2 linked regions of the Homo sapiens genome follow. The protein of the gene in region 1 purifies or fractionates together with the protein of each later gene. This does not show direct contact. Each region holds a gene or a part of one and is shown in the gene's direction. Other genes may lie near its edges.

Region 1 (4,630 bases):
TTTATTTGTTTTTATTTTTTATTTTTTGAGATGGAGTCTCACTCTGTAGCCCAAGCTGGAGTGCAGTGGCATGACCTCAGCTCACTGCAACCTCTGCCTCCTAGGCTCAAGCGATTCTCGATTCTTGTGCCTCAGCCTCTCGAGTAGCTGGGATTACAGTGTGTGCCACCATACCCAGCTAATTTTTTGTATTTTTAGTAGAGACCGGGTTTCACCACGTTGCCCAAGGTGGTCTCAAACTCTTGAGCTCAGATGATCTTCCTGTCTCGGCCTCCCAAAGTGCTGGGATTACAGGCGTAAGCCACCGTGCCCAGCCGATCATGGGGTTTTTGATCACCTTTTTCTACCTTGAAGCCTCTGCCCATCAGAACCATGGAGCGCAGCAGCCGGGTATGTGCCTGTGACAGACCCATTCCAGCCATGTGGTGTGTGGCAGGTTCCCTAGGGCTCGGCCACATGTTGGTAGGCCTGGAAAGGAGCAAAACAGCACTAAATGGACAGGGGTCTCTGATTCAAATGGGTCCCTAATTCACTGGAGCCACCTCCCCGCTTCTGACTCCTTGGGCGTATTCACCTTTGAATTTAGGAATTTTCAACTTTCTGTTTTGCCAACAACCCTGCCCTTTGGTGTGGGGTCCAAGGGGTCGGGGACCCAGAGTGGGTGTTGCTAGGCTGACTGATGGCAGCCTTCAGAGGGAGTGAGACCACCCCTCCCTTCCCTCCTTCCCCCACCCTCTTTGACACCGCTGGGTTTTTTTTTTTTTTTTTTTTTTATCAAAAGCACTAATTTTGTGATGTAATGTGATGTAGCGATGAAGGACCCAGCCCCGGAGTCAGACCATGTGGTTTGAATCTCAGCTCTGCTAGTCAGGAAGCCTGGGCTGGATTTCTTAATTTCTCAGTGCCTCCATTTCTTCATCTTTGAAATGGGGTTAGTAATAGTCCCGGTTACTGCAACCATTATATGAGATGATGAACCGCGACACCAGCATGATGCCTGGTTCTTATTGACAATGGCTACCACTTTCTCCACACCTATACATCACTACATGCCTGGCCTAACTTGGCTGGACTCCAGAGCTTGGGCTCTTTTGGCCACAGTACTCTGTTTCCTGACAGCACTTATGTCCTTTACTCCTGAAATATTTGAAATGTCAGGAAGATGAGACTTGTCCTTGGACAAGTGGCAGAAGGCCAGGGCATGGCCAAGTTATCAGGATGCTCTCTCTTTCCAAATAGGGTTCCCCTAGACCACCTAGCCCCTCTATGCTCTAAGAAAGAATCATCATAATTCCACCCTCCTTTCCTCCCTCTGGGCCCCCAAACCTCTCCACCTGCTCCAGGTGCCCCACAGTCGGTGGCAGGACCATCGCTATGTAAATGTCTGTGCAAATACCCTGGTGTCAAGCTGCCAATTCTCCAGTGAGGCAGGACTACCTCCTGAGACCATCACTTCCCAGCCATGGGGCCCAGGGCAAAGACCATCTCCTCCCTGTTCTTCCTCCTATGGGTCCTGGCTGAGCCGGCTGAGAACTCGGACTTCTACCTGCCTGGGGATTACCTCCTGGGTGGCCTCTTCTCCCTCCATGCCAACATGAAGGGCATTGTTCACCTTAACTTCCTGCAGGTGCCCATGTGCAAGGAGTGAGTCTCCAGTGTGGGGCTGGAAGTGGCAGTGGGGATGGGGTGGGAGGCCAGGCCTGGTCCTGTGGGTCCTTGGGAGCCAGACCAGGACCAAGGGCTTAAAGCACTCCTCCCCATTCATTGCCAACCCCCTTATTCTGGATCCATGCCCCTAGTCCTCAGGGAGGCCCCGTATAATATGGGTTACCAAAATCTTTGGCGACTGTGCTCTGAAACACTGAGACTGGGGTCATCTCAGTGCCATTTTTTTTAAATAGAGTTACAGAATGTTTGAGCCTAGAGGGCTCTTAGAGGCCATCAAGACTGCTCCCACCCACTTTGGCAACTGGGGGACTCCCAATGGGTCCATGTCAAAGCCCATTCTGAAAACCTTTGGGAGGCAGAATGTGATTTTTCTGTAGCAGGTTCTGTGGTGGGTAGGGGTGCTTTTGGGCCGAGAGGGAAGTTCCTCTTCCCCCACCTCCTCCCTGAGCCCCTTGGGGTGGCAGCATCACTTGGAGATTGTGGGGGCTGTGTGCATCTGCATGCAAGCACGAAGGACATGGAGCCAGCCTGGGACTAAAAAAGAGTGACCTCTTGCAGAGAGGGTGAAGGTATTGCGGGAGACAAGGAGAAAGGAAGAACAGTGCAAAAGATGATTAAGGGTTGAGTATGAGAAATGCATCATTTATGACACTGGGGAAGATTATATGCTGGCTTGAGAATGGTGAAGGTGATGGCACCAGGCATGATGCTGGGTTTTCTAATGCTTGTGATCATGGTGGGGTGTATAATGATGGTGATAGTTGTGATGAAAGTAATGGTGGTGATGCTGATAATGTTGATAACAGTAATACTGGTGATGATGACAATGATAAAAAGTATGATGGTGATGATGATGATGATAGTGGTAATGGTGGTGATGATGGTGATGGTAGTGATGATGATGGCAGTGGTGGTAATAGTGTTGGCAGTGATGGTGCTGGTAGTGATAATGGTGATGGTTGCGTTGATGATGGTGATGGTTTTAACGATAGTGTTGGTGATGATGGTGATGGTAGTGATGATGGTGTTGGTGGTGATGATAGTGATGCTGAAGATGGTGCTGATGGTGGTGATGGTGTTGGTGATGATGGCGATGGTAGTGATGCTGGTGATGGTGTTAGTGATGGTGTTGGTGATGGTGGTGATCGTAGTGATGCTGATGATGGTGCTGATGGTGTTAGTGATGACGTTGGTGATGGTAGTGATGATGGTGATGGGGGTGGTGATGATGGTGATGCTGATAATGATGGTGCTGATGATGGTGATGGTGGTGAGGGTGTTACTGATGGCGTTGGTGATGGTAGTGATGATGATGTTGGTGGTGGTGATGGTGGAAATGGTGGTGGTGATGGTGGTGATGATGGCTGTGATAATGGTCGTGCTGATAGTGATGGTGGTGACGGTGATGATGGTGGTGATGATGGTCACAAGGTTGTGGTGACAGTGATGGCCCTGGTGGTGATATTGGTAATATGGGTAGTGGGTGATGATGGTGATAGTGGTGATGGTGGTGATGGAAGTCTTAGTGGATAATGATGGTCACATTGGTGGACATTGGTAGAGTGGTGATGGAGGTTATAGGGATAGTAGTGATGATGGCCACATGGATAACAGTATCAGTGGTGGCCATATGGGCAATGGTGACCCTAGAGATGTGGTATGGTGACAATGACATGGTGAAAATGCCCGAGTCTTCTGGAGTGGCTCTTCTCAGTCAATGCCTTGGCTTTCCTGTGGCAGGAAGGAGGAGTGGGCTGGTTCTCTTATCTCTTCCTTCCTCATTCTGGATCTGCTTCCACCTCATGATGCTGTGGCCCCTCCAGGTATGAAGTGAAGGTGATAGGCTACAACCTCATGCAGGCCATGCGCTTTGCGGTGGAGGAGATCAACAATGACAGCAGCCTGCTGCCTGGTGTGCTGCTGGGCTATGAGATCGTGGATGTGTGCTACATCTCCAACAATGTCCAGCCGGTGCTCTACTTCCTGGCACACGAGGACAACCTCCTTCCCATCCAAGAGGACTACAGTAACTACATTTCCCGTGTGGTGGCTGTCATTGGCCCTGACAACTCCGAGTCTGTCATGACTGTGGCCAACTTCCTCTCCCTATTTCTCCTTCCACAGGTGAGGCCCCTGGGCCCTGGAGAAGGACCTGGGGAGGGGGGCAGAGGAATGGCTGTCTAGAGGCCTCAGAAGCCACTTCCTCCATCAATCATGGGAGGTGATGATAGGACCAGAAGCAGGGTCAGGACATCAGCCCAAATCTTGAGAAGGTAGCCCAGCTTATGGAGTAAGGGCTCAGGCTTTGGAAGCGGGCAGATCTGGTTGTGCAACTTGGCACCGAGCCTTGGCCACAGTGAAGCCTTTGGCAAATCTCTTGACTCTTCTAGCCTCAGTTTCCTCACCTGTAAAGTGGGATGATAAGCGTTCCATCCCAGGACTGTCTGAAGGTTAGTGTTCAACCTGTGTAAATTTCTGGCACACAGTAGGTAGTAAATAATGTTGTTTTATAAAGCATCTTGCACAGGAATAAAAACTTGAAGTGCTTAGTATTATTCTGTACAGCTGCCTAGCACAAGGTCTGCCTCGTAGTAGGTCCTCACAAAAGGGTGATTTGTATTACTACTATTATTATAACTATTATCATAATCATGATTGAAAGTGCCAAGTGCAGTACTGGTACAGGCTATATATTCATTAAAGATCAGCTAGCAAAAGACTTGGCACACAGTAGGTAGTCACAAATATTGTGATTGTTACTGTTTAATGTTAGTACTTTTACATGAAGCATCTAGCTGAGGACTGAATTCATTCTTTCATTCATGTAACAGATATTTATTGAGCACCTACTATGTGCCAGGTACTGTTGTAGGTGCTGGGATACAGCTGGCAACAACTTAGAAATCATCGCCCTCATGGAGTTTCTCTTCTAGTGGAGAGAGACAGAAAATAAATGTAAACA
Region 2 (3,189 bases), on another chromosome or scaffold:
ATGTCCTTCCTTTAAGAGTGCTGCTGTTGATCAGAAGTAGGAAGTGGAAGGAAGCCTTCAAGGGGACAAAAAGAGAGCAAGAAAAAAAAGGGGGAGGGGGTCATATTGATTCCTGTGGGAGATGAAATTCGGATATTAAACAACTGACCTAAGTCGCTTACAGTTCTTCCTCCCACCTTTCTATTTTGCCTCTTAATCAGCCCAGGCGTCCTTTCCCTGAGATTAAAAAAAAGAGAGAGGGGAGCGTTAACAATTAAATGTAATAAGCAACTCCAAAGATGGGGATGCTGTCGAGGTGGTAGTTCCGTGCAAACCTTGCTATTACCGTTGCAAATAGACGCGGAGCCCAAGGTAAGGGAGGCTTTCGTGCTGATCCTTGGTGTACTGATTCCCGGTAAGCGGTAGGAACGTCCTTTTTAAACTCTAGGCATCGGGAGGTATTCGGAGATTGCGGATACCTTCGCTGAGTTCTTTGTAATCCATCGTGCAGAACTATTTCAGTGGCTTAAAGATGCGGTTTGGTAGCGTCGCTGACATGATCAATGAGAAGTGGTCGCAGGGCGCTCTCCGGGAAGCGCTGCTAAGTGGTACCGTGCATGCAATTAGGACGCTGATGTGCTTTAATAGCGTGGTAGTGAAGTCCACCATCAAAGCAAATGCGCTCTCCTTTTTTCTCCTTACTCAAAGCTCCGGGAGACAATTGGTGATTTAAGAGCTTCTTGGGGCTCCTTTGATGCATTATATTACAGCCTTTTTGCCTCTGAAAAGTATCCTTTAGGTTCCCACCGTGGCATTTCTAGCGATGGTTTAAAATACCCCAAGTATTTTGGCTCCTTGCCTCTCTGTGAACATGAGAGACCTTCACGGTGAACTGTTAACTGAAGAGGCTCTGAAAGAAAGAAGGGGGGGTGGGGGCTGGGTATAGGTGAGGTGGGGAACCTTGTAAAATGGTGCTTCTTTTTTCTTAAATTAGAACCATGAAACTGAACTGACAGCCATTTTATGTATATTTATGGATTGGTTTTGAAAAGGGGGGGAGAAGAGAAAACTAAAATGGGACTTTATCTAACCTGCTCTTATCTTGTAAGGAGCAGCATATTTGTGGTGTGCTCATTTAAAAAAATTAATCAACCTTTAAATCAAAATGTATAATAGATTTTAATAAAATCTAGAGAATGTCAATGTTTCACTTGGGGAGGTGTGTCATTTGTATCTCTTCCTTTTGGGTTTTAGAGTAATAATGTTAAGAAAGAGAGAGACTTTCTGACTGATCCCTTAAATTTTTGTCATATTCTGTTATTTCCTTGTTTTCTCTCTCCCTTACAGGAGGTAAAATGCACACTTGCTGCCCCCCAGTAACTTTGGAACAGGACCTTCACAGAAAAATGCATAGCTGGATGCTGCAGACTCTAGCGTTTGCTGTAACATCTCTCGTCCTTTCGTGTGCAGAAACCATCGATTATTATGGGGAAATCTGTGACAATGCATGTCCTTGTGAGGAAAAGGACGGCATTTTAACTGTGAGCTGTGAAAACCGGGGGATCATCAGTCTCTCTGAAATTAGCCCTCCCCGTTTCCCAATCTACCACCTCTTGTTGTCCGGAAACCTTTTGAACCGTCTCTATCCCAATGAGTTTGTCAATTACACTGGGGCTTCAATTTTGCATCTAGGTAGCAATGTTATCCAGGACATTGAGACCGGGGCTTTCCATGGGCTACGGGGTTTGAGGAGATTGCATCTAAACAATAATAAACTGGAACTTCTGCGAGATGATACCTTCCTTGGCTTGGAGAACCTGGAGTACCTACAGGTCGATTACAACTACATCAGCGTCATTGAACCCAATGCTTTTGGGAAACTGCATTTGTTGCAGGTGCTTATCCTCAATGACAATCTTTTGTCCAGTTTACCCAACAATCTTTTCCGTTTTGTGCCCTTAACGCACTTGGACCTCCGGGGGAACCGGCTGAAACTTCTGCCCTACGTGGGGCTCTTGCAGCACATGGATAAAGTTGTGGAGCTACAGCTGGAGGAAAACCCTTGGAATTGTTCTTGTGAGCTGATCTCTCTAAAGGATTGGTTGGACAGCATCTCCTATTCAGCCCTGGTGGGGGATGTAGTTTGTGAGACCCCCTTCCGCTTACACGGAAGGGACTTGGACGAGGTATCCAAGCAGGAACTTTGCCCAAGGAGACTTATTTCTGACTACGAGATGAGGCCGCAGACGCCTTTGAGCACCACGGGGTATTTACACACCACCCCGGCGTCAGTGAATTCTGTGGCCACTTCTTCCTCTGCTGTTTACAAACCCCCTTTGAAGCCCCCTAAGGGGACTCGCCAACCCAACAAGCCCAGGGTGCGCCCCACCTCTCGGCAGCCCTCTAAGGACTTGGGCTACAGCAACTATGGCCCCAGCATCGCCTATCAGACCAAATCCCCGGTGCCTTTGGAGTGTCCCACCGCGTGCTCTTGCAACCTGCAGATCTCTGATCTGGGCCTCAACGTAAACTGCCAGGAGCGAAAGATCGAGAGCATCGCTGAACTGCAGCCCAAGCCCTACAATCCCAAGAAAATGTATCTGACAGAGAACTACATCGCTGTCGTGCGCAGGACAGACTTCCTGGAGGCCACGGGGCTGGACCTCCTGCACCTGGGGAATAACCGCATCTCGATGATCCAGGACCGCGCTTTCGGGGATCTCACCAACCTGAGGCGCCTCTACCTGAATGGCAACAGGATCGAGAGGCTGAGCCCGGAGTTATTCTATGGCCTGCAGAGCCTGCAGTATCTCTTCCTCCAGTACAATCTCATCCGCGAGATTCAGTCTGGAACTTTTGACCCGGTCCCAAACCTCCAGCTGCTATTCTTGAATAACAACCTCCTGCAGGCCATGCCCTCAGGCGTCTTCTCTGGCTTGACCCTCCTCAGGCTAAACCTGAGGAGTAACCACTTCACCTCCTTGCCAGTGAGTGGAGTTTTGGACCAGCTGAAGTCACTCATCCAAATCGACCTGCATGACAATCCTTGGGATTGTACCTGTGACATTGTGGGCATGAAGCTGTGGGTGGAGCAGCTCAAAGTGGGCGTCCTAGTGGACGAGGTGATCTGTAAGGCGCCCAAAAAATTCGCTGAGACCGACATGCGCTCCATTAAGTCGGAGCTGCTGTGCCCTGACTATTCAGATGTAG

The links.
Region 2: the proteins of TAS1R2 (region 1) and SLITRK5 purify together in Homo sapiens (affinity purification with mass spectrometry; one large-scale study listed by BioGRID and IntAct). This does not show direct contact.

Annotation. Positions count from the first base shown.
Region 1 is NC_000001.11:18,856,493-18,861,122, reverse strand, and holds the start of TAS1R2 (taste receptor type 1 member 2 precursor), read left to right. Parts: upstream 1-1,462; coding exon 1,463-1,644; intron 1,645-3,491; coding exon 3,492-3,792; intron 3,793-4,630. UniProt on the Homo sapiens protein: Putative taste receptor. TAS1R2/TAS1R3 recognizes diverse natural and synthetic sweeteners.
Region 2 is NC_000013.11:87,674,055-87,677,243, forward strand, and holds part of SLITRK5 (SLIT and NTRK-like protein 5 precursor), read left to right. Parts: intron 1-1,326; 5' UTR 1,327-1,334; coding exon 1,335-3,189. UniProt on the Homo sapiens protein: Suppresses neurite outgrowth.